Regions from separate parts of the Homo sapiens genome. Here regions 2 and 3 are each linked to region 1. Evidence: fine-mapped QTL for protein levels in blood plasma. A gene starts in region 1. Each other region holds a variant in brackets. All regions are shown on one strand. Distances are from middle to middle. Region 1 holds the start of CPXM2 (carboxypeptidase X, M14 family member 2). Region 2 overlaps CPXM2 (carboxypeptidase X, M14 family member 2). Region 3 overlaps CPXM2 (carboxypeptidase X, M14 family member 2).

What was found. PIP is the chance, under the fine-mapping model, that this variant and not a neighbour inherited with it causes the effect. The UK Biobank Pharma Proteomics Project read protein levels with antibody pairs (Olink). The fine-mapping took linkage between variants from a reference panel, not from the people measured, so its PIPs are less certain.
Region 2: its variant is fine-mapped to the plasma level of the CPXM2 protein (UK Biobank, PIP above 0.99).
Region 3: its variant is fine-mapped to the plasma level of the CPXM2 protein (UK Biobank, PIP above 0.99).

What each region holds. Positions count from the first base shown.
Region 1 is chr10:123,888,528-123,896,702 of GRCh38, reverse strand. CPXM2 (carboxypeptidase X, M14 family member 2) reads left to right here and starts at 4,896. Exons shown (of 14, transcript NM_198148.3): 1 at 4,896-5,347. The coding sequence starts at 5,044. It overlaps LOC105378534 (a long non-coding RNA gene), which reads right to left and starts at 2,999. Exons shown (of 3, transcript XR_001747622.2): 1 at 2,720-2,999; 2 at 2,459-2,625.
Region 2 is chr10:123,860,014-123,868,188 of GRCh38, reverse strand. CPXM2 (carboxypeptidase X, M14 family member 2) reads left to right here. Exons shown (of 14, transcript NM_198148.3): 3 at 5,466-5,575. Among named protein-coding and RNA genes, the nearest start is that of CPXM2, 28 kb to the left of the region's middle. RefSeq lists enhancers at 1,416-2,223, 3,770-4,511, 8,012-8,175. The variant TG/G (reference allele first, on the strand shown) is at 5,454.
Region 3 is chr10:123,850,970-123,859,144 of GRCh38, reverse strand. All of the region lies in intron 3 of CPXM2 (carboxypeptidase X, M14 family member 2), which reads left to right. Among named protein-coding and RNA genes, the nearest start is that of CPXM2, 37 kb to the left of the region's middle. The variant C/T (reference allele first, on the strand shown) is at 2,792.

The DNA of each region.
Region 1 (8,175 bases):
CTTACTGTTTACAAATGGAATATCTCATGCCAAAGCAAGTGTCCCAAAGGTCAAATTGAAAATGAAACCACAGAGTGGAGGCAATAGTGAGGAGAGGAATTAAGTTGCAAGAGGGACCCATGAACTAAGAATAAGGCTTATCAAAAGATGCCAAATGTACAGGGTATGGGAGTAAGAACAAACATGCTGAAAATTAAATATGAAATGGGTAATTATGTAGTAATGAGATTGAGGACATCACAAAGGACACTGCCATTTAAACTATCACATCTCAACACAGTAATGAACGAGAAAAACCCTCCAGCTTTGTAATTATAATGATAGTTGCCATAACAACTTAGTATCTCTCTCCCTGTGCATCCATCTCAAGACTATATTTTTAGTAATGGCTGTGCCTGAGTATGTATTTTTCTTTATATAGCAGCTAATTTTTCAAATTAATGATCTTTCAAAAAATTCCATTTTCATTCTCTCTGAAAGTGTAAGAGTCTCAGGGATAATTAGGGAAATGAGCAGGTGTGAAAAGTCCGTAATGAAAAATGCTATAAAAATATTGATGTCTTGACAATATTTGTTTCAACAGAATGTTCTCTAGACCTGCACACTCTATTGTTCCTTGCCAAGCAGCTTAACATAAATCTCCTTTGTGGGGCTCATAAATATTTGAAAAATTATTAGCCGTGTAAGGTGTTTGAGGATTATCAGACAAGTATGGATTTATGTTGTATAACAGAAACTGGCTTAGCAGAATCCTGTCTAAGGGATGAATGAATGGACAAACATGGGCTTATTTTGCTTAGCAGAAGTGCACTTAGCAGATTCTCAATTGAGGCAAACAATGGTTGACTTTAAAGAACACCATTTGAAGAACTCAGAAACTGGGGGGGATTCTGAACTGCCACTTTGGTTTCCCAGTTTGCCCCCATTACTACCCCCGACTGGTGTGTCTGGTTTATAGCACGGCTGACATCCAGGGAGAATCAGTGCTTTCTGGAGTTCTACTTACACTACGCGGAGAGACTCACAGCCCCTCCTGAGGGTTCCAGTCCTGAGTTAAACAGACAAATTATTAGATTGAGAACAAAAAAGTCCTAGAGAGAAACATTCTTTGGCTGATGCCGTGAAAGACTCTAGGCAAGATTAGTTATGCAGAAGGAGTTATTGAAATTTTCTGTGTTTCTTATATTCTGTTGGTTTCTGTGGAAGATGCAAAGTTAGCATATTATAATAATCACAGAGCTTATCAGTGCTGTGCAGGAGGCCATTAAGAGTCTGTCTTGGCCGGGCATGGTGGCTCACGCCTGTAATCCCAGCACTTTGGGAGGCCAAGGCGGGTGGATCACCTGAGGTCAGAAGTTCGAGACCAGCCTGACCAACATGGTGAAACCCTGTCTGTATGAAAAATATAAAAATTAGCTGGGTGTGGTGGTAGGCACCTGTAATCCCAGCTACTTGGGAGGCTGTGGCAGGAGAACTGCTTGAAGCCAGGAGACAGAGGTTGCCGTGAGCCGACATGGTGCCACTGCACTCAAGCCAGGGTGACAAAGTGAGACTCTGTCAAAAAAAAAAAAAAAAAAAAAAGAAAAAAAAGAAAAAAAAAAGAATCTGTCTTATGGTTGTTGCCCAGTGGCAAGTGGAAAGAGCCAAGTTTGAGTGAGCTGGTGAGCCTTGAACCTTACCTAGAGGGGTTAGGTTTACTTGGGATTGGTTAGCCCTGCAGATTCTTCGGTCGGGGAGCAAGGTTGTTAACGGGTGTTTAGGGAGAATGAATGGCTTGTTGCCTTGAAGGAAGAGTGGACGGCAGATCAGAGAGGCCCAAACAGCGAGACCTGCTGAGCACGGATTCCCATCATCTGCCATGGGTCTCTGAACCATGGGCTGAGTGATGGGCAGTGGGAACAGAGGAAGAGGCAGATTAAAGAATGTGTGCCATGAGAGCAGCAGGACTTACTGCTATGTATTAGAAGGTGAAGGAGAGATGGGGCCAAGATGACCAGGGAGGTCTTCATCTGAGAAGCTGAAGAACGCAGGACCCTCCCAGGCAGATAGGTGAGAGTTGGGAGAAAGAATAAGGCTTGCAAACCAAGAGAATGAGGTCAGCTTTGCCGCCCTATCTTCCTAAACTTCATGAGCTCTGACTGTGCCTTGCACCTTTCCAGGACGGGCAGCACCAGAGAGAGGGAGCCAGAGGTAGACAAAGGAGGCTCCAGGAACAGTGCCGTGGGCTTCTGTGTTGGGAGAACTGGCATCAGTGCAATCGATTCTTGTTCTATTTGTCCTACTTGCTTTAATTATGTGTCTCTCCAGGGAAAACAAACAAGCAAGCATTGATAGGGAGAGCAGTAATAAGTGGGACTCATTTCTTTATTCCAGGGACATGTTGAGAGGCATGTTTGGGTAGGGCCTTCTCTGGACACTTACCAGACACTGCAGAGCGGGTATATGTTATGTTACTCACCTAAGAGGTGCTGAAAAGCGGTAAAGTGTCTTCAGGACTCATGGGCTTGGGGCCATTGGGATGTATATGGCCTGACTTTAAATATTGGTTAAAGGCAGCAGAGCAGGGTTAGTCCTGGCCATCACTAGCTTGCTGTGTGTCCTCAGGTAAATCTGGGCCTCAGGATCCTGTGTAAAATGAGAGGGAGAAGATTCATCTTAAATTTGGATGCTATCAGAATTACCTGAGGAACTTCTTAGATATGCTAGTACTTGAACCCACTCTTTAGGAGATTCTGAAGGTCTGGGGTGCCGCCTGGGTGTCGGTCTGCTGTTGAGCAAGCTCTGGGGGTTCTGATGGAGGTGGTGCAGGGCACCGTCCTGGCCTGGGCTGCCTCTGCAGTCCCTCTGGCCAGGATGCCAGGCCAGCCTCTTGTTAGCGCTTCACACAGCTCGCTGGAACGCTGGGTGTGTTGCTTGCTGCTGGAGCCGCTTTCTGTTTCACCACTAAAGACTGTGTTGTCGTCTGGAGTGCCTGGCTTCAGATAAAACAGTCCCCAGGAGTGAGCCCTGGGGATAGGCCATGGAGGAGGGTGGGTGGGGATCCAGGAAGGGTTGGGGAGCAAAGAGTGGTGGGTGGGGAAGGGGACCCTCCTGCCCTCTCACCCTGAGGACTTCTGCTGGCTCTGGATTCCAGAGCGTCCTGGGGGTTTGACAGGCAGGACCAAGGCCTCCTGGTCCCTGCAGACAGGCCCTGCCTCAACCAGCAGCCTCCTCCTCTCCCTCTGGTCATTCTGCTTTGGCCTTCAAACTGGAAGCCTGGAAGACTGGCCCTAAAAGATGGCCTGGTGGAGTGGCCTGCGCAGAAAGAGAATGACAACCTTCCTGGTCCAAGCCCTGCCCACTGTGGGGTCTCAGGAGCCCCCACTCTAGGGAAGTCCTCACTCCAGGGCAATGGTGAGGCCTTGCCCTGGTGCCCTGACTCAGCTCAGTGGCATCGTAGGATCACATCACAGACCCAGAGGAACTGGGAAGGTGACAGGCCAATGCAGGCTTGAGGGTCAGTCTGTCCCTGTAGCGCACTCCATGGGTTCCCAAAGACATCTACACCTGAATACCTAGAACAAGAGATAGTTACGGAACCTGGCAAAAAGTTAGGGAACATGGCAAAATGGACTTTGCCGATGTGGTTAAGGTCACCACTCAAGATAGGATGACTATACTGAATTTTTTGGGTGGGCCCATCTATTCACACTCTCTTAAAAGCACAGAATTTTCTCTAGCTGGAAGGCGGAAAGATGTGGCAGGAAGGGAAGCGATTTGAAGCTGTGCCAGCTCTGGCTCTGAGATGCCGGGCCCACGTGCGAGGACCAGGGAGAGGCCTGGAGGAGCCTGCAGAAGACATGAGGAGGAACACAGGCAGCCAGCAGGAGGAAAGGCGCCTCAGCCCACAGCCAGCGAGTGAACTGCACGTCAGTCCTACTACCGCAAGGAGCTGAATTCAGCCAATACCTGAGTGAGCCCGGAAGTGGACTTTTCGCCAGAGGCTCCCCTAAGAAACCAGTCCTGCTGACCCCTTGATTTTGGCCTGGTGACACTCGCATCAGCCTTCTCACCTGCAGAGCTGTGAGATAGGTGTTGTTTGAAGCCACTAAGTTTGTCATCGTTTGTTACAGCAGCAAGGGAAACGATGCAGTCCCTGGTTCCCCACATCCCCGCCTGGAGAGCAGAAGCCGCAGGGCCATGGGCCTGGGCTCCGCATAAAGAACCCATGCAGAGTTGTCCAAAGCAGGAGGCCCTTTCTCAAAGGACCCTCTGGGCAAGAGCCTGCTCTTGGATGAACCACAAACCCTCTTGTGACCCCTGGATGGCCACCTTGGGGTAACGTCACTGTCTTTCCCAAGACCCAACAGAATCACAGTCTCAGATGGGAGAGGGCTCCTCCAGGGTCCCTAGGCCCTGCTCCCAGGGAACTTTACTCCCAGAAACCCCGGGAACCTCAGGAATTCCTCATTCCCAGTTCCTGAAACAGTAGCATGGCTAGTGGGAAGTCCACGTCTGCGGAATGGTCAGCACACGGGGCACGGTTTGAGAGCTGGAGGCTGCTTGGGCTCTGATTTACTTTAGGACCCTGGGCCAATCTTTTCTTCTCTCAGGTCACGTTTCTCCACCTGTAAAACAGGAATGGAACAGCGGGCCTCAGTGTTTTCTTCTAAGATTGAAACTCATTAGCGTCTCTGGGGAAGCAGGCCCCACGCTGGCTGGCCTGCGGGGGAGGGGAAGGGGGCTTTCTTGGGCTTGGCTGCTTGGAACACCTGCCTCCAAGGACCGGCCTCGGAGGGGTCGCCGGGAAAGGGAGGGAAGAAGGAAGGGCGGGGCCGGCCCCCCTGCGCCCGCCCCGCGCCTCTGCGCGCCCCTGTCCGCCCCGGCCCAGCCCAGCCCAGCCCCGCGGGCCGGTCACACGCGCAGCCAGCCGGCCGCCTCCCGCGCCCAAGCGCGCCGCTCTGCTGTGCCCTGCGCCCTTGCCCCGCGCCAGCTTCTGCGCCCGCAGCCCGCCCGGCGCCCCCGGTGACCGTGACCCTGCCCTGGGCGCGGGGCGGAGCAGGCATGTCCCGCCCGGGGACCGCTACCCCAGCGCTGGCCCTGGTGCTCCTGGCAGTGACCCTGGCCGGGGTCGGAGCCCAGGGCGCAGCCCTCGAGGACCCTGATTATTACGGGCAGGAGATCTGGAGCCGGGAGCCCTACTACGCGCGCCCGGAGCCCGAGCTCGAGACCTTCTCTCCGCCGCTGCCTGCGGGGCCCGGGGAGGAGTGGGAGCGGCGCCCGCAGGAGCCCAGGCCGCCCAAGAGGGCCACCAAGCCCAAGAAAGCTCCCAAGAGGGAGAAGTCGGCTCCGGAGCCGCCTCCACCAGGTAAGGAACTTTCTGCGCTGGGCAGCCCGAGGGGGCGCCGGTGGTTGCGCGCCTCCAGGGGACAACTGGCTTCTCCCATTGTGTGTGTCTGGGATGGGCCAGTCCCGGGAATCTCCCTGTTGCCGCCTCTGCCTCCCTAGGGACTGTATCTGCGCTTCCTGCCGGCCCGCCCAGCTTCCCAGAACTTGTCCTTGACCCTGACATGCATTTCAGCTCTGGCTTATGCCCTTAGGTAAAGAGGGAGCTGTGCAATTGGGAGGCTGCCTATGAGAGTCAAAGTTCTTGTTTCAAGCTTGAAATCCCCTGAGCTAAGGGTCTTTCTGCTGGATGCCTCTTACTTCTCTGCCTACTTCTTCAATCCTCAAATGCGGCTGAATTTCCGCTTTGGGGATGTGGATGGCTGGCTGTTTTGGCAGATGGCCTTCTAGGGAAAGCTCTGCCAGTAGGCCTTTACCCAGTCGTGTCCCTTCTCAGCTCCCTCCTTCCCACTCTCAGCGGGTCTCTTGGGTCCTCTGCCCGGCTGGGGCAGGATGGCACAGCCTCCACTGGGGAGTCTGTGCCTGGAGTCTGCTGCAGCCTGGACTCCGGCTTGGGGGCTCCCTGGCTGCCTGCAGTGCTCCGTCTTTCATCCAAGTCTCATACCCTTCTCAAATCCATCTTCAGTTTCTGCCAACCTCATTTTCTTAGGAAAATGACTTCCACTAAATGACGTAGTTTATTAACCACCTTGTGAAGTGGGGCTTTCTCTAGTTCCAAATGTTCTTTGCTTAAATTGCAGGGGCTGCAGGCCTGGTATTTCAAGAGTGGGGCATGAGCAGGAATGTGGCCAAATTCTCTGGCCTCGCAATGGCCTTTCCTGAAAGGAGATACGTGCGGGTGCCACCGTTACAGGGCTCCGGGTATGGAAGGCATCGTCTTTGTTTGGTTAAACTGCTCACGAAAGTCAGCAGCCAGGGCAGTGGGAAAGTGGAGGAGGGGTGAGGACACAGAACTCCTGAAAGGGTGGACCTATATGAGCACCCCCCTTTGCAGAGGCCCTGGCATGCTTCCATTTGTGGACAACTTTGAATGGGCGGAGATTTCTGAGTTGTGTGACAACCCTGAACACATCCAGAATTTCCAGTGTTTCAGGGAGAGTTATGGGAATTCAGATGTTTAAGAGCTACAGTGGCTTAATAACAGGATTAGGAGTGGGAAGAGACTTATATTTGTAGAATGTCGACTGTGACTCCATTAGAAACTTTATGTGCCAGTTTCATTTCATCCTTTCAGTGGCTCCGAAGGGTGGGTGAGGCTCAGACAGTTTAAGTAACTTGCTCAGCGTCACTTGCTGGCTTGGGATATTTGAAAGCCTTTCTTCTGTCCTTTTTAACTCAAGGCCTTTTTGGTTTGGTAGTTTGAATCAAATCCACATGCATTCTAGTTTTTTTTTAAGTGCCTGCAATGTGCTTAGCTCCGTCCTGGGCATGGTAGGGTGGTGTAGGCAGGAGACATGTATGTTGGGTTCTGGCAGTCACTGGGGGTAGTGCTAAGGGGGAAAGTGGAAGAGAGCCCCAGACTGGGAGTCTGAAGACTGGGCCTAACACCCATGTTTAGGGCTCATCAACTTGGGGATCTGGAATCATGGCTCAGTTTCCTGAGCTTTAACTTCATCATCGTTTGCAAATAGGAAGACTGCACCTGCCACCTCACTTTACTTTGTCAATTGCTGTAAAAACCTTTTTAATGAAAGCTTCCAGTGTGCCTGCCCGCTTATGTGCTGGTCTTCCTGTGAACCTTTCATTCATTCCACAGGCCGTTACCAAGAACCTGCTAAGCACTGGTGCTGGGTGAGATCCTAGGAATGGGGAGAGCAAGACGTTCCTCTTCCCTGCCCCCCAGCCCCCGCCCCCCACCACATGGAACTAGCTGGGAACTCTGAGAAAGTAATCACAGTTGTGTTAAGGGTTGCACAAAAGTGTGGGGTGTTAAGGTAACAAACAAGCTGGGGGAGCTCACTGAATCTGTGGGGGCTTGCGTAATGCTTCCCCGAAGAGGTGATGTTTAAGACTTGACAAGTAAGTCAGCTTGATTGTCCTGGGGACTCGTACAAGTGACCGGACATCATTCCTAAGATAGGTTTCTTTCCCTACAAAACACATCTCAGAAAGTCACAGCCTGGCCTGAGCAGTGTCCACAGACTAATGTGTCTGCAGACTCAGGGGTTACATGGGGAAGTGACTCTCTTTAGTCCTTGGAGAAACAGCTCTTGCCACTCTTGGAATGGGGTCTCTGGAGGAGAAATCAGAGTGTAACCTGAATTTGCAAGAAAAAGCTCATTTGGTTTTGGAAGGCCATCTTGCAGGTAGAGACAGGCCATGGGGGAGCCTGTTGATTCGGTGCCTAGCCTCTGCTCCTGCAGGACACATTGCCCAGTTCACCGCAGCCCTGGCATCCACCGGGATCTCCAAGCCCCATACTGAAAACACGTCTTCGGAAGATCTAGAGACTCACATCAGAGGCCTGTTGGGACAGCTGCCTGCAGACCTGCTACCATGTCAGCTGTGTTTCTAATGAATTCTGTGGGGCTTTTTTAGAGCTCTCCCCAACCATGACAAGACAAGTGTGACATTTATCTCATATTTTTAACTCCTGTCCTTTTTTATTTTGGTGTTTGCTCAGCAGAATCCTCTGCCCTGGACCAAAGTGGGAAGACTGGTTTAAGCGTGAACTTAGTTAGGGGAATCAGTGACAGTTTTGTGCAGTTAAACTACACTAGGAGAAAATTATTTTTTTTCTACTTTAAGTAGCGGCTTGATCTATATGCTGCTCGTGGTGTAATAGAAGCA
Region 2 (8,175 bases), 29 kb after region 1:
GTTTCTGGTGACTTGTTTGCACTGTGCTCCCTTCGGTCTTTGCCAGCCCAGGGTGGGGCTGACAGAGGTCTCATCCACTTTTCAAGGCCTCTGAAGGCCTAGGAACTGCAGATGTTTTCAAATGTTTTACCCTAGCCCCTGTGGCTCTGAGGCCTCCAGACCATTCTGCAGGTTTAAGATTCCCCAGACCTCCTCTCTCTTACGTGGCTCGCATGCTTTGCAAGTGGTTTCCTCATCCTGCATAATTTTCTCCCCACTGTAGTATTGTTCCCCTTAGCAGGAGAACCCAAGGGGGAGGAGCAGGTCACTTTATTCATTTTGGACATTGAGTAGACCTGTCAAAAATCTCTAGGATGGGCCGGGCGCAGTGGCTCATGCCTGTAATCCCAGCACTTTGGGAGGCCAAGGCGGGCAGATCACCTGAGGTCAGGAGTTTGAGACCAGCTTGGCCAGCATCGTGAAACTCTGTCTCTACTAAAAATACAAAAATTAGCCGGGCATGGTTGCAGGCGCCTATAATCCCAGCTACTTGGGAGGCTGAAGCAGGAGAATTGCTTGAACCTGGGAGGTGGAGGTTGCGGTGAGCAAAATCGCACCATTGCACTGCAGCCTGGGTGACAAGAGTGAAACTCCTTCTCAAAAAAAAAAAAAAAAAAAAAAAGAAAGAAATCTCTAGGATGACGCTCTGAAGGTAGAAAGAAAAGAAGAAAAATGAATCAGGTTGAAATATTCTGAAATTCTTCAGAGTGAAATATTAAGCATGAGTATTTCAATATTATGTATTTCGAATTAATTTAGATCTTTAAAGCAAAAGATAATTTTCCTGTCTTTTATTTTCTAGCCCCTTACTTTCTCATTCTTTAGCATAGGAAAATCCTGCCTTTTTCTAAATGTGGAGATTCCTGTGTCAGATGTTCAATATGTCTTTAAGATGGGCTTGGGAACTTTTCCTGGGATGCTTGATTCTGACATGGGATTTTTGCCTTGTTGATCTTTGCATAAAGGGATGTGGGATAGTGGGCTTGTGCTTAGACTACTTTATGCTTAAACTTCTTTTTAACTTAAAAAATGTTTTAAAATGGGATTTGGGGAAGGTGGGTAACTCCCAGCTGGCTCAGTGTGTAGTTTTATCTGAGCCTGCAGGATGCCTACTGCGGGGCATGGCGCCGTGTGTTAGGCTGGGTTGCAGTAGCATTTGTGAATTGCCCTGATGCTCATGGAAAATAGGGTGAAGTCAGAGTGAGGCAGACGTGGGATGGAAGGAAGGAGAGGAGGCTATCAAAGGGAAAAATAAAGAATGGAAGATTGATTAAATAAGAACTTTCCAAGTGAAGCTGACTTTACTGCTGTGTGCCTGACTGATACTGCAGCCTCTGCCACACAAAAGTGAGGGGACAGAGTGCCGAGGAAGAAGTGGTGACAAGCTTGAGGAGATTCTTTTGCAGCAGACATTGGAAGATGATTGGGTATTTGCTTCAGCTGCAGATTGCAGGCGGATTACTCCAGCTGCAGCGTTCACACCTGCCTGATGGGGGCCTCCAGGGTTCTGAGGCCTGCCTGCCACGTCAACAGGCCAGTCTCCAGACAAGCAAGTCGTCTGAGTTTAAACTTTTTTTTTTTTTTTGAGACAGTGTCTCACTGTGTAGCCCAGGCTGGAGTGCAGTGGCACGATCTCGGCTCACTGCAACCTCCGCCTCCCAGGTTTAAGCGATTCTCCTGCCTCGCCGTCCCGAGTAGCTGGGATTACAGCGTGTACCACCACACCTGGCTGATTTTTTGTATTTTTTAGTAGAGATGGGGTTTCACCATATCGGCCAGGCTGGTCTCGAAATCCTGACCTCAATTGATCCACCTGCCTCGGCCTCCCAAAGTGCTGGGATTACAGGCGTGAGCCACCGCACCCGGTCCTGAATTTAAACTTTGTGCGTGTGATTGGACGCTGAGTGGCATAGACGGTGCCTGTGACACCTCATAGCTGAAGTGTGGGCTCAGAAGGTGGATTGTTAAAGGGAAGGGGAGGGGCTCTCTTAGGGAATCAGTCTGAGGGTGATGAGCCCGTGCTGCAGCCAGGAAAGACTGCCCTGGGGAAGGTGGAAAGAAAAGTCCAAACAAGGAAGGAAGGTCTGGACCGAGAGGGAAGAGAAAGAGCAGAACATTGTGTGATGGAAACCAGGGCTGTGTGTGGTGTGGGGGTGGAGGAGTGGCTGAGAGGGAGAAATTGTGGGGCCCAGTACAGAAAAACGGAGAAGAGGCTGAGGAGTCCCAAAGGGCCACAAAGTGACCAGGGCCACTGTGAATGAATGGAGTCAGGAGCAAAAATCCCAGGAAAGGAAGGGAGAGAAGAAGCAGAGATGGAGGTGTTGCCCCTCCTGGGGTTGGCCAGGAGGAGGCAGTTGGAAGAACCCATAACTCAGAAGCTGGGCGAGCCTGCCTGAGCTGTGTTCACCCTCAGCTCTGGGCAGTAGCTGCAGGTGCCCGTCCCGTGCCCCATGTCGGTTGTGAATTTGGCGTCCCCTTGTTTTGCTAACAGCACCCTGATCCCAGTGGGCAGCCAGGGGACCAGGTGAGTCAGGCCCTCTCTGGAGGCATGCGTGAGGTTGAGTGGAAACTCAGAGGTGTGATAGGAGGTGGACAGTGTCATTGGAATCCACTGTTCTGCTTCCTAGATGACGGGAGCTCTGTGCCTTTCCACCTGCACGTGTCCTGTGTCCCGCCTCTGTCCTTCTCACTTTCTGCCATCCCTCTCATTTCTCTAGGGATTTCCCTTCCTGTCTAAGTTGGCTGTGGTAGGTTTCTTAAAACCAAAGGGCCCTCACTAACCCAGGCGGATCAGTAACTCTGTCTTTGCCTTTCAAGGACATTGTGTTTTCTCTGTGTGGAATCTCTAGCTTCTTTGTAAGTGGCACGGGCAATGGAGAAGGCTTCCAAACCAAAATTAATGGCTCTAAAAATAGCATCTTCTAATAAGGACAAAAAATCCCAGTGTCAGAGCATTGGGTTCCTGTAAGACTACGTTTGCGAGCAGGCCAAGTTCGTGTGTGTTTATCTGGGCTCCCCCACCAAAGTCATCATCTGTGCTGTGGGTGGAGGGGGTGAAGTTTCTGGCTTTGCCGTGACACCATCACAGGAGTGGACAAGAATGGCTGTTAGATGTGGCAGCTGCCAGCACTGCTGGCGGCGGGAAACTCAGCCCGTGAGAGGGCAGGCATTGCACTTTTCAGTTGCTATTAGACGTGCACCCATGAAACACCTCACTTGGGGGCACTTTCTTTTCACCCCTTATGTATCTTGGCAAGAGGATGTGACAGAGCTTCTGTCTGTCGACAGAAAAGCAATTTTGATGGATATGTAATTTTAGTCAGGTACTTCCTTTTTTGAATTAAAATACTCACGTGCATAGGAGTCGTGCTCTTTTTCTGGAAGAAATGTTTTGAATAGCAATTATTGTTGCTTTATTGAGCTGGTACATGATCTATATATGTCTGCCTGTCCATCTGGTGGGCTATCTGTCCATCTGTCCGTCTCTCACTTAGAGTGTATAAATGATATAAATAAAGGTGGCTTTGCTGAAGGAAGTCCATGGAATTTACCTCCTGCTGTGTCTTCTGCTACCAAGGAAGAAGCTGGTGGTTGGAAGGCCTTCAACACGGCAGTGAAATAGGTTCATAAGATGGCAGCAGATCCTTTTGGTGTTTCTGATGCTTGGTTATGTGGGACTGTTGTGGGTATGTATTGAGTACCAGGACATGGAGGGACAGGACCTGTGCCTGGTTCCCCATCAGGGTCTGAAACCCCCCAGGTCCCTTGAACCCTGAAACCACAGCTGGCAGAGTGAAGATAAATAGAGGCTATTCCCAGGCCACCAGGAATCGCCTGACAGAACCTGCTGCCTAGCCAGCTTGGTGTCACAGTCAGTGGGTGGGGTCTCTCTCTCAGTGGGTGGGGTCTCTCGGTGGGCGGGATCTCTCAGGACAGACCGGTTATTCCTGAGAATGCTGACTGTGTCTAAGGCAGGATAGGCTGAGACCAGGTGATGGGGAGAAGAGCAAGGAGTGAGCAGGAGACGAGGATGAGAATGGGGCACAGCAGGGCAGCAACCCCAGCTTAGGGAGCCCAAGAGCTTCAGCCAGAGCCCAGGCTCCTGGGGCCAGGCTGCAGGATGTCCTGGAGTCAAGCCTCTCCAAAGGGACAGGCAGCCTAATGGGTCAGTGGCCTTGACTCTCAGAGCTTGCCCTGGATTCTGACAAGGCCCTCTGGTGGATACCAGTGACCGCTGGGGACTGTGAGCTCCAAGAGGCGAATGGCATCCGACAGCAGGGGCCCATTGTCCTGAGGTGAGAGTGAAGGGCACGGGCCCAGGCTCCCAGCTGTCTCAGAGAGTGACGGGGTGTGGGATTATAACCTGGGCTCAGGGGCCAAGCTGCGGAGGTGCCAGACCACGAGAGTGGCAGGGTGGGGCTTCTGGGACAGCATGAGAAGGTTCTATGAGGAGGCAGGGCTGTTGGAGGCCCAGCAGTGAGGATTTCTGAGTATGTCGTGTGAGGATTAACCCTGCTGGTCAGCCACTTGAGGTCCATTTCTGGTAGGCAGGATGGAGAGTGAACATGTGGGACCCAGGAACTGCCACCACATGGGTCAGATTCATGTCCTTCAGGCCTGGAAGGTGTGAGGGCAAACCCTGGGGAAGGAAGGGGGCATGGTAGCCAAGTTTTTCTCTGTGAGGTCAGCCTCGGGTGGTTGGCATGCCTGCTGCACAAACCCCCTCAATGCGGGGACCCCCGGTTCATCATGTGGCCCCCTCTCGCTGCATGGCCTTTCACACTCACTGTGTGCACCCCTCCGCCTTCACTAAATGCTCCACCACTCACTGTGGTGGGCGTGGGGGCAAACAGCAGCCCAGAGGTCAGGAGACCCCTTCTGGATGCTGCTTTAAGCATTGTCATTCTTACGGACAATGGGCTAGGCTGGGACGATCAAGCACTGGTGTTTTATTCCAGGGGCAAATGGTGTTTACTAGCTGTGCTCCATGTTATCCATTTTGCAGAGACTGGAAAACAATAGGTTTTTTTTCTGCTTATATTCCTCTGCTCATTAGCATGCACAATATAAAGGCCAGAGTTGCTGAAGCAAAATCCGCAAGTTCTGATTAATTTGCAGAGCTCCAATGATGCTTCCTGACTGAGTCATGTTGGGGAAGGATCCTTAATTGGGAACAGCCTCAGACAGTAGCATGGACAGCAAAAGAGAAGGAATATCAGAGCAAAAACACCCCTAAAGCAAATGCCAACAAGAAAGAACATTGGCTTAATGTTGACAGTTCAATCAACCGTGTCTGGAAAGACCAGGCATGCCTGTGGGTGGGAGTTCAGGGGAAAATGGAAAAGCACGCGGCCAGATTTAGAAAATAAGAAACTCATCCCTTTCAGCATCTGTCGTTGTTTTTAACAAGCATT[TG/G]TCCTTTCCAGGTTGCCCACCTCTTGGTCTGGAAACCTTAAAAATCACAGACTTCCAGCTCCATGCCTCCACGGTGAAGCGCTATGGCCTGGGGGCACATCGAGGGAGACTCAACATCCAGGTACCTGGCCCTGTGGTTGGAAGGATTTTGACTGCCTTGTTTATTGCTCTGGTTCCTTGAGCTTGGATCAGGCAATGCGCAGGATTTAAAATGCATTAGCCTGGATGCTCACAGTAAGAAAGGATATTGCTGAATGATCCTAATTTTACAGAGAGAGCTCTGAGACTCAGGGAGGCAATGTCTTCTCCAAAGACTGTCGTGAGTAAAAGTGAGACCACCAGTACCTGGACCCAGGTTGTTCCTCTTCCACCTTTTGAACACTTCTCTTCCATATGCTGTTGGTCCAGAAAGGACAGGAGGAGAAGGTGGAATGCCTGGGGCATGGCGGGGCAGAGCCGTGGCACACGAGGCAGTGGCATTTGTCTTCCCTTGCCTCCCTGCCAGTGCTTCTTGTCTCTGCCACACACACACCTTCCAGGCTTTCCTGTGGCTCCCTCCATTGTGTTCCCCCGGGTCAAGCCCTGCATGGCTCCTGGGACCATGCACATCCTGGCTGGTCTCCCTCCTGGAGGCTCAAGGGCCTTTCTGACCTTGGGCCTCAAGACTGTCAGGCCTCCCTCTCTGTCAGTCCCATCAGTCCGAGGTCTTGCTCCAGGAAGGTGAGCTCCTGCCTGCACACTCTACACGCCGTGCAATTCTTGACTCCAGGCCCTTTCTGTAGCAGGTTCCCCTGCCTGAAACTTCTACTGCCCAACCATGCTCCACTCACATGAATCCCATCTGATCCATGTATGAGTTTCCTATTGCTGCTGTGACAAACGTAGCCTCTTCCCACAAATGTATTCTCTTACAGTTCTGGAGGACAGACGTCTCCTTGGGCTAAATCAAGGTATGCAGGGCGATGCTCTTTCTGGAGACTGTAGGGAGAATCAATTTTCTTCCCCTTTTCAGTCTTGAGAAGCTGCCCCATTCCTTGCTAGTGGCTCTTTCCTTCTTCAGAGCCAGCAAAGGCAGATGGAGTCTTCATGTGACTGCCTGTCTGGTTCTCTGTTCTGATTTCTTGTTCCCCTTTTGAGGATCCTTGAGATTACACCGGGCCCACCTGGATAGCCTGGGATCATCTCCCTTCCTCAAGCAACCTTCATTCCATCTGTGACCCTCATTCCTCTCTGCTGTGTAATCTAATATATGCACAGGTTCTGCGGATTAGAGCGTGGACATCTTTGGGTAGGAGTTATTCTGCCGCCCCATCCCCAGGGCATTTTGTTCCTGCCCCACCTCCTGCTGATCTGTTCTTTCTCAACTTAGCACTTGATCTCTACCGTCCTGTGTGGCTCTCTAATGGCACCATATTCTAGTTTTCTTTCTATAGCTCTTCTGTATTGGGAGTAGTTTCCAAGCCCCTTTGCACGTGCACCATCTCTGGCCTAGGGAGGGAGGAGGTTCCTTGCCCCTGGCCCTGAGAGCCATCAAGGGTGCACTCAAAGCTAATGGCTTCCAAGTGGCAGAGTGGACCCCTGACTCCCCCAGCGGTCTGTGTAAATGTGCTAGGGGCAGCTGCTGTGCTGGGAACTGTGTACAAACAGATAAGGTTCCTTCCCAGGGAGCTCATGGGATTGGGGGCATCTGAGCCAAGCTCTGACTCCAAGCTTTGCTCTTTCTCCACCCCACCCCTCAGACTGCACCGCATCAAACAGACTTTCGAACTGCTTAACCTCCGCCACTTTTCAGTTCAGACGAATTCAGGTAGAACATTTGTAGAACTAACTTTAAGGAGATCCGAAGGTTGGTTTATAAATACTCGTATAAAAAAAGAATAATAACTAATAAGAAATATTTGGATGTGCACAACTGTCAACTGCAAACAATCTCTTATGTTTTATGAGGGATGAACACATGAGCCCGCAAAGCTTGAGCTGGAGCTATGTTCGTGTCCCCACAGTGCCTCCAGTACCCTAGACGGGGCTCCAGGCCTCTGAGGAAATGACAGTCAGATCCAAGCAGGGCGTGTGCAGCCTGTTTTGTGCATTAATTAGGGGAGCTGTCGTCTGATGCTTTGCATGATTTCTCTATAATTGAAATTATCCTTTGAAAAAGAGAAAGTGTTCACATTTATTTGTGCTTTCGGTCAAAAATTAAAAGGTCCTGTTAATCCTAAATGTGTTGGGGTTGAATGGGAAGGTCGGGGGAGCGTGGTGTTTTTGTCCCTCCAGTTGGGAATTCCACCGGCAGAGTGCCACGCAGGGTGTGCCAATGAGATGTTGTAGACAGGCATGCTGAGTGCAGACCTTGGCCTTGATGTTTCTAGATTGGGGGACTTTGGAACAAATGATCTCATGTCTCTGAGGCTCAGTTGCCTCATCAGAAAGATGAGAGTCCTAATCACTCACAGAGTTCCTTGAGTGGTGACCTTAGGTGACTTCTGATTTTAAAACATTCCCTGGATCATCTCCTTCCTCTGTTGAAAGGCTCTGGTGGCTTCTAGTTACTGTATGAGGAAAGTCCCAGGTTGGTCTTGGGTGACTGGGTCTCTCTCTGAACCTTCATTTACTTATTTCCTTGGGTTGTATCTGCCCCTTCCTTGTGAGTAAGCCCCATGTTAGATGTGGCCTTGTTTCTCCTGCTTGCCCAGCCCCTGGTGTGCAGAATAGCACCTGCAA
Region 3 (8,175 bases), 38 kb after region 1:
GCTGTGAGCTGGTTTAGCCTAGCGCTGTGCCGGCCTAGGACTCTATAGGCGCAGATGTGGCTGTGGTCCAGGCTGGAAGGTATGGGGCTCACAGGCTGGGATGCTGGTGCTGGTCGCTCTGCTGACCAGCCATGTGGCCTCGGGTGAGATGCCCTCATTCTCCAAGGCTCAGTGTCGTCATCAGGAAGGTGCAGGTCCCACCGCTGGCTCTTCCTCCGTCATGGAATTGTGAGTGTCAAAAGGAGTAAAGAAAAAGAATTGCCTTTGGCAGTTCTCAAATGCATATTCTTACCTATTAGCATTCATTCTTGCAGCAGACCATTGTGAGGTGCCTGCTATGTGACAGGCATGGAAAGGGCCATGACAAAAAGCCCTAGGGATTCTCTGCCTTCAAGATGCTTCAGTCTTTAGCAGAGGGAGAGTGGGAATCAGCTCCAAGCATTATTGGCACAGTGCTAAGTGCCTTATGCACGTGATTTCATTTATTCCTCCAACATGGAAGACAGTACTGTTATTATTACCTCTGCCTTATAGAAAAACAGACACAGGGAGCATGGGATGACTCAGCTCACATTTCCCAGGAGGGGCAGATTAAGAATCCAGGCAGCTTTAAACCTTGAGTTGTTGCTCCTAATGATGCCATAAAATTGCCTCCCAAGTCAACAGATAGAAGTGGTATAGGTCCAACAGCTGGACTAGTGATCAAACCGTGTACATCTCTCTTTTCTGACAGTTATCTCACATTGATTTATTCATCTGCACCCTCGCCAAATGCTGAGCCGCTTGCAGAAAATGTGTCTCTTGCATTTCTGGGTATTCCCCACCCTGTGTGAGCGCGGTGTCTGCACATATGGATGCGCTGAATCAACAAAGCTTCTGTGTAGTGGCTGCAGTGCTTAAGGGAGCTTAAGCAGGAGAAGCCTAGGAGGCGGCCGGGCAGGCTGGTCTGCTGTCACATGTGTTTTTCTAGTGCATATTTGCCCTGTGTGGTTGGCAGATACAGGGATGATGTCATTATGACACAGAAGCAGCATTGGTTCATGTGTGACTTTTGCTAGTCTGTGAATGGTCTGTGGGGCCGAGCACCAGCACCTGGCCACAGAGTGCACTGTCACGGGTGAATATGGAGTCTATCAGTGGTCTGTGGGACCAAGTATCAGCACCTGGCCACAGAGTGCACTGTCACGGGTGAGTGTAAAGTCTATGAATGGGCTGTGGGACCAAGTATCAGCACCTGACCACAGAGTGCGCTGTCACGGGTGAGTGTGGAGTCTATGAATAGTCTGTGGGACCCAGCACCAGCACCTGACCACAGAGTGCACTGTCAGGGGCGAGCGTGGAAGCTGCGGAGTCCCGTGCGTGGTGCCCTGTGCCTCCTGTTCCTCGGCGTCAGTGGGGCCTGTGCTGGTGCATTGCTCAGGTTCTTCTCCGTTTTGCCCTAGCCTTCAACTCAGCAGCTCCACGCCGCCTTCCATCTCCACGCCGCCTTCCATCTCCACGCCGCCTTCCATCTCCACGCCGCCTTCCATCTCCACGCCGCCTTCCATCTCCACGCCGCCTTCCATCTCCACGCCGCCTTCCATCTCCACGCCGCCTTCCATCGCTGGCATCACCTGCCTCCCTGCTTGTTTCCTTTTCAGATCAAATCCTATAATTACAGCTGTATTTAAACACTGTTTTGAGCAACTCAACGTGTCTCCTTAATTGTGCTAATGTGTTTTTAAAATTAATTTTTTTCAGTCTTCTGCTTCTAGACCTGTATAGATTTTGAATGGGCTGGCTGGTGAGCTGGGTTTTAGACTGGGAACTTTTACTGGAATACATTTGCCGTGTTACTACAGAAATACCTGTCTCCTTTTCCATCATTTTAAGCAGAAGACTTTGAAAGAGTCCTTATAACTCAATACTTCCTTTTTTTCAAGTAGAATTTTACTTTTGTTAACTTAATAATATAAGGTTAGAGAAAAAAACCAACATTTACATTTTATCACTACATTGGGACAAAATAGACTTTTCAGGAATTCAAGGAAGACATCCAGTTCAGCAGGAGAGCAAAAGTTCGGCCCCTCACCTATGATTATTCTTCCTGTGCGCCCAGGACCCCTTTATACTAACTCACTTGTGAGGCTGTGATCTCATTTAGAAACAGTCACTGGTTTCTTCCATTCTGGGAGCAACTACGGACAGATTGGAAATTAACATTCTGAGTCTCCAAGAGAACATATTGACAATGACCTCTAAAATCATGCTTAGGGCTAGGTGCGGTGGCTCATGCCTGTAACCCCAGCACTTTGGGAGGCCGAGGCGGGTGGATCACCTGAGGTCAGGAATTCAAGACCAGCCTGGCCAATGTGGCAAAATCCCGTCTCTACTAAACATACAAAAATTAGCCGGGCGTGGTGGCACACGCCTGTAATCCCAGCTACTTGGGAGGTTGAGGCAGGAGAATCACTTGAACCTGGGAGGCTGAGGTTGCAGTGAGCCATGATCATGCCACTGCACTCCAGCCTGGGCGAGAGGATGAGACTCTGTCTCAAAAAAAAACAAAAAAAAGCCAAACCAAACCAAAACAAAACATGCTTGGATCCTTTGCCTGTAGGTAGTCTTAGGAAGTGACCCTATGTTCAGGTGGGTCATCTAATGGCAGCTCATCACCTGCCCCACCCCAAAGAATCCTCCTTTGAGGACCCTAAGATATTTTCCCTGGGTCATAAACTAAGGAAGGGGGTTCGGGGACAGCAGCCCTGCTGAAGTGATTTATTGCACCACTGTTATTATTTTGGATATTTTC[C/T]TAGCTGGCAAGCCTCAAACAGATTGCAGTAGTAAGCACTGCCGTGTCAGAGGGCTGGCTTTCAACCTCATTCTCAAGAATTTAAATTACAGTAAGTCAGTCAGGGTCTGACGTGTGATCAGAAGAAATGAAACACCAAGTGTGTGGTTGGGACTCAGGATGTCACCACAATTCCTGCCTATAACTGGGGACCGACTTACATCCCTTATAAATGGGGATGTAGAAAAGTTGGTGCTTAGATCAGAGCTTGGAAGAAACAGCTGATGTTTTGAGGTCACAAGGAAAAACGTAGCACACTCCCTGCACAGCTCTGGGTGTCCTTGTGATAGCCTGGTCACGGTCGTTTGGCACTCTGTGGACCAGGTCTTGTCTCACCCATGTTAGAAATGACTGAGAGTTTGGTCCCCTAGAGAGAGAGGCTCACCTCTTGCAGCTCTTCCAGGAGGAAACGTCTGGCCATAATAATAGTGTCTGTCAGAGCCATTTCCCCAGCACTGCTGGAAGGAATCATGAGTCCTCTCCTCAGTCATTTCCTTAAAAAAATTATATGGAGCACCTCGATGCCAGTACTAGAATCTAGTTCCAGTGTTCTCATCCACTTTTTACCTAAAATGAGGTGGGATATTTGGAGGCGGCTGCTGCCTGTGGCTTCATTTGTACCCCCGCATGAAGACATGAATGCAGTTTTAGAACATTGAACCAACTGAGTTTTATCCTGTGTCACAGCTCATGTTCCAGGGCACGTCCTGTACGTGTCTCCCTGTACCTTTTGGCCCCAGTGCTCTTGGGGCCCCACTTTGACCAAAGGTGGAGGCCACCCACATTTCTCCTGGCAGGAAGTCTATGGAGAACCTTTGGCAGTACCATTTTCCCAGGTCTCACCTGTGCCCGACCCACACCTGCCTGTGGCTGGGCCCTGCACCCGTGTCTTTGACCCTAAGCCTATCTCTTCCTTCATGCCTTCCCGATTTTCTGTTTTGTTTGTTTTTGTTTTTCCTGGCTATGCAAAACCTTACTGTGTCTCACAAGTTCTTCTTGGGGGCCATATATGTGCTAAGTGCTGCAGAGGCAAAAATAATCACAGTAGACATAGTTTCCGAGTCAAGGAATGTCGTGTTTGTTCTGATAAAGGGATTTTGTTCTACATCTGGCTTCAAGCAAACAGTCTGGGAGACAGTGTTTGGATGCCAAAACACTGGAATTTTGGGTATTTGGATTTTTATGGGAATAACAGGACTGAATATTTTAAATTGTGACTCCCTTGGAGAAATCAAAATGAATATCTAGTATGATGGTAATATGCTGTTCTTATTTCTCAAGAAGCTTACAGTGTAGACATACAAGCCGGTAGAAGGACAATGTAACCAAAGTAAAAAGGGTCCAAAACCACCAAAGCCTCCTTGACCCATGAACCACAGATTATTAAGGAACCACAGGATTATCTGGTTCAGATATAGATTCTGTTCTGTTTGCTGTGTGCATTTTTCTTTAATATGTTATTAAATTTCATATGTTGTGTCCTTGAAGCACTAACACAGAATGACCTACACACCTGATTGCTGGGAGACGTGCACATCCAGAAGACGGTCATCCTACCTGTGTACAGTGAGGCAGGTGCCCTGGGGAACCATCCCCATGAGGTATCGCTGGAGAAGGCACAGTGCAGTTATGACTGCGGAGTAGACACACAGGCTCCGGGGGTTGTCTGTTGAACAAGCCGAGCCATCACTTGGGTGCTGGAGCTGGCAGGGAAGGAGCCCTGGGTTATCTACAGCCGGAAAACTGAGATTAGGGTCTCAGGTCTGTACTTAGTAGCTGTGGGGTTAGGGCAGGTCACTTAGCCCCTGACTTCAGTTTCCTTATCTCTAAAACAAATATATATAAAATATATATTATATATATTATATATAAAAGTATATTATATATATATTATATATTTTATATATAATATATATATAATATATATATTATATATATATTATATATATATATTTTTATATATATATATATATTTGTTCACTAGCTCTTGGGCCACCCCTGCCTCTCAGCTTGTGCTGCCTTATCTCCCTGACCACTGGCTTGAGTTTCCCCTAGGCTCTCCCACGCCCACATCCAGGAAGGGCCCAGAAAAGTCTGATCTGAGAGGCATCAGTAGTCACCCCCGGAGCCTGTGTGTGCGTTCAGCAGTCAGAGCTGCTTCTCCAGTGATGCCTCATGGGGATGGTTCCCCAGGGCACCTGCCCTGCTACACACAGGTCAGATGACCGTCTCCTGGAGGTGCATGGTTGGGAATCAGGTGTGTAGGTCATTCTGTGTTAGTGCTTCAAGGACACAATAAATGCTATATAAGCAGAAAAAGCCAGGGTGGGGAGAGGGAGGGGAGAAAAAAGGAGAGGAGGAGGGAAAGAAAGAATAACAGCAGATTCTTTCTTTCTTTCTTTCTTTTTTTGAGACTGAGCCTCGCTCTGTCGCCCAGGCTGGAGTGCAGTGGCACGATCTCTGCTCACTGCAACCTCCACCTCCCGGGTTCAAGTGATTCTTGCACCTCAGCCTCCTGAGTAGCTGGGATTACAGGCACGTGCCACCATGCCCAGCTAATTTTTGTATGTTTAGTAGAGACAGGGTTTCACCATGTTGGCCGGGCTGGTCTCGAACTCCTGACCTCAAGTGGTCTGCCCGCCTTGGCCTCCCAAAGTGTTGGGATTACAGGCATGAGCCGCCACACCTGGCCAGATTCTTTCTTTTATTTATTCATTTTATTATAACAACAACACAAAAACACAACACACCTCTGGAAACCTTTCATGTACTCAGCACTGTCATAAGAACTGAGGAAACAATGCTGAGCAAAAACAGAAGAGCCCTGAGCACTTAGCAAATATTTACTGGGGGCCTATGATGTGCTGGGTCGTGTTCTAGGTGCTGAGGATGCCTAAATGACCAAAACAAGGATTCTTGCCACCTTGAAGCTTGTGTTCTAGTGCGGGAGGCAAATCAAGGCAGATGTATTAGTCCATTCTCTCACTGCTATAAAGAAACGGCTGAGACTGGATAATTCATTAAGAAAAGAGGTTTCATTGGCTCACGGTTCTGTAGGCTGTACAGGAAACATTGTGGCTTCTGCTTCTGGGAGGCCTCAGGAAACTTACAGTCATGGCGGAAAGTGAAGGGGAGGCAGGCACTGCTTACATGCCCCTAGCAGGAGCAAAAGACTGGGGAGGTGCCACACACATTTAAACAACTAGATCTCATGAGAACTCACTCATTATCAAACACAGTTCTAAGGGGGAGATCCACCCCCATGATCTAATCACCTCCCACCAGGCCCCATCTCCAACACTGGGAATTACAATTTGACGTGAGATTTGGGCAGGGACACAGATCCAAACTACATCAGCAGGAAATGTAACAAATCATAGTGTTTACTATTATAGTATGTTAGAAGGTGGCACGTACTATGGAGAGAAGGGAAACAAAACCAGCGGACAGCTGGCAGTGGTAGTCATGGGGGCAGACTCTGGGAAGGTGGCAGCTGCTTTTCAAGAAGGGGATCAATGGGGAGCCAAGGGGGTATGAGAAGAGCATTCTGGGCAGAGGGGATGGCTTGAGCAAAGGTCAGGTATAGCATGCTCGGTATAGCCAAGGGGCAGCAGGAGGTTGGAGTGAGCATCAGGGGAGAAGACATGAGCCAGAGGTAATAGGAGGCCTGCAGGCCCCCTGGAAGGACTTCAGCTTTTAGCCGTGAGCCAATTAGGGGAGCCCTGGAAAGTTCTGGACACAGGAATGACATGCTGTGGCTTACATGTGAAACGGATCAACCTAGTCACTGTGTTGACTTTTGGGGAGCAAGCATTGAAGCAGAGGCCTGTCAAGGGCGGTGACTTCAGGCCCTAGACAGGAGATGGTACTGGCTTGAGCCAAGATAGGCGTGATGGAGGGGGGTTGGAAGTGGTTGGATTTAGGTTATTTTGAAAGTAGGATTTTCTGATGCAGGGCAGATGAGGTTTGGATGAAGGATGCAAGAGAATAGAAGGGAGTCGGGCATGCTTTTTAACCTGCAACTCTGATAATCTAGTAATCTAATGGGGAGATGAAATTACTGAAAAAAATCCCACCTGGGAATGCATAATTACAATGAGTCCTGGGAAGGAGAGGAGCAGGTGCATTCATTCCCTGGGACTGCCATGACAAAGTTGGGAGCCCAGATAGGGAAACTGAAGACAACAAACACTGATTCTCTCACAATTCTGGAGGCTTGAAATCTGAAATCAAGGTGTTAGCAGGGCATCGCTCCTTCCGAAGTCTCTAAGAAAGGGTCCCTCCTTGCCCTTTCCAGCGTCTGGTGGCCTCAGGCATTCTGTGGCATCCCTGGGCTGGTAGATGCATCACCCCAGTCTCTGCCTCCCTGGTACCTCAGGCTTCTTCCAGTGAGCCTCTACATCATCTGTCCTCTGCCTGTGTGTCTCTGTGTTCAGATATCCCCTTGTTTAAAGACACAGTCATGCTGGATATGCCCATCCTGCTCTAAGCTGACTGCATCTTAACTAAGTGCATCTGTCCCAGCCCCCTTTTTTTTTTTTTTTTTGAGATGATGTCTCGTTCTGTCACCCAGGCTGGAGTGTAGTGGCGTGATCTTGGCTCACTGCAACCTCCATCTCCCGGGTTCAAGCGATTCCCCTGCCTCAGCCTCCCGAGGAGCTGGGATTACAGGTGCGTGCCACCATGCCCGGCTAATTTTTTGTATTTTTAGTAGAGCTGGGGTTTCACTGTGTTAGCCAGAATGGTCTGGATCTCCTGATCTTGTGATCCGCCCGCCTTGGCCTCCCAAAGTGCTGGGATTACAGGCATGAGCCACCGTGCCTGGTCACCAGCCCTATTTCTAAATAAGGTCACATTCTGAGATTCCAAGAGTTAGGGCATGAGCCTATTTTGGAGAGGGGGAACACAATTCAATACTGTGGTTCTGTATGCCCAATATATCTGCCTCAGGCTGGAGCTTGGAGGACTTTCCTGAGGATGGAGTGAGTACTTGGGCTAATAAATGAAGAAGGATTATAAGTTGAGAGTTTATTGGACAAAGGGTAGGCAGAGGGAGAGAAGAGCATTCCAGGTCAAAGAGAAGAGTATGTGCAAAGGCCCTGTGGTGGTGGGGAACATGGTCTATTGGAAGGACTTAGGCAAAGCCAGTGTGACTGGAGCTACACTGTGGTTATGGAGCAATGTCATGGCCAATGGCCATGAGAAAAAGAGCTTTCCACCATTAGTCGTCAAGTAAATACAAATGAAAGCCGCAATGAGACAGGATGCACAGACACCAGAATGGCTTTGAAAAAAGGATAATATCAAGTGTGGACAAAGATGTAGGGCAATGGAAGCGTTCATAA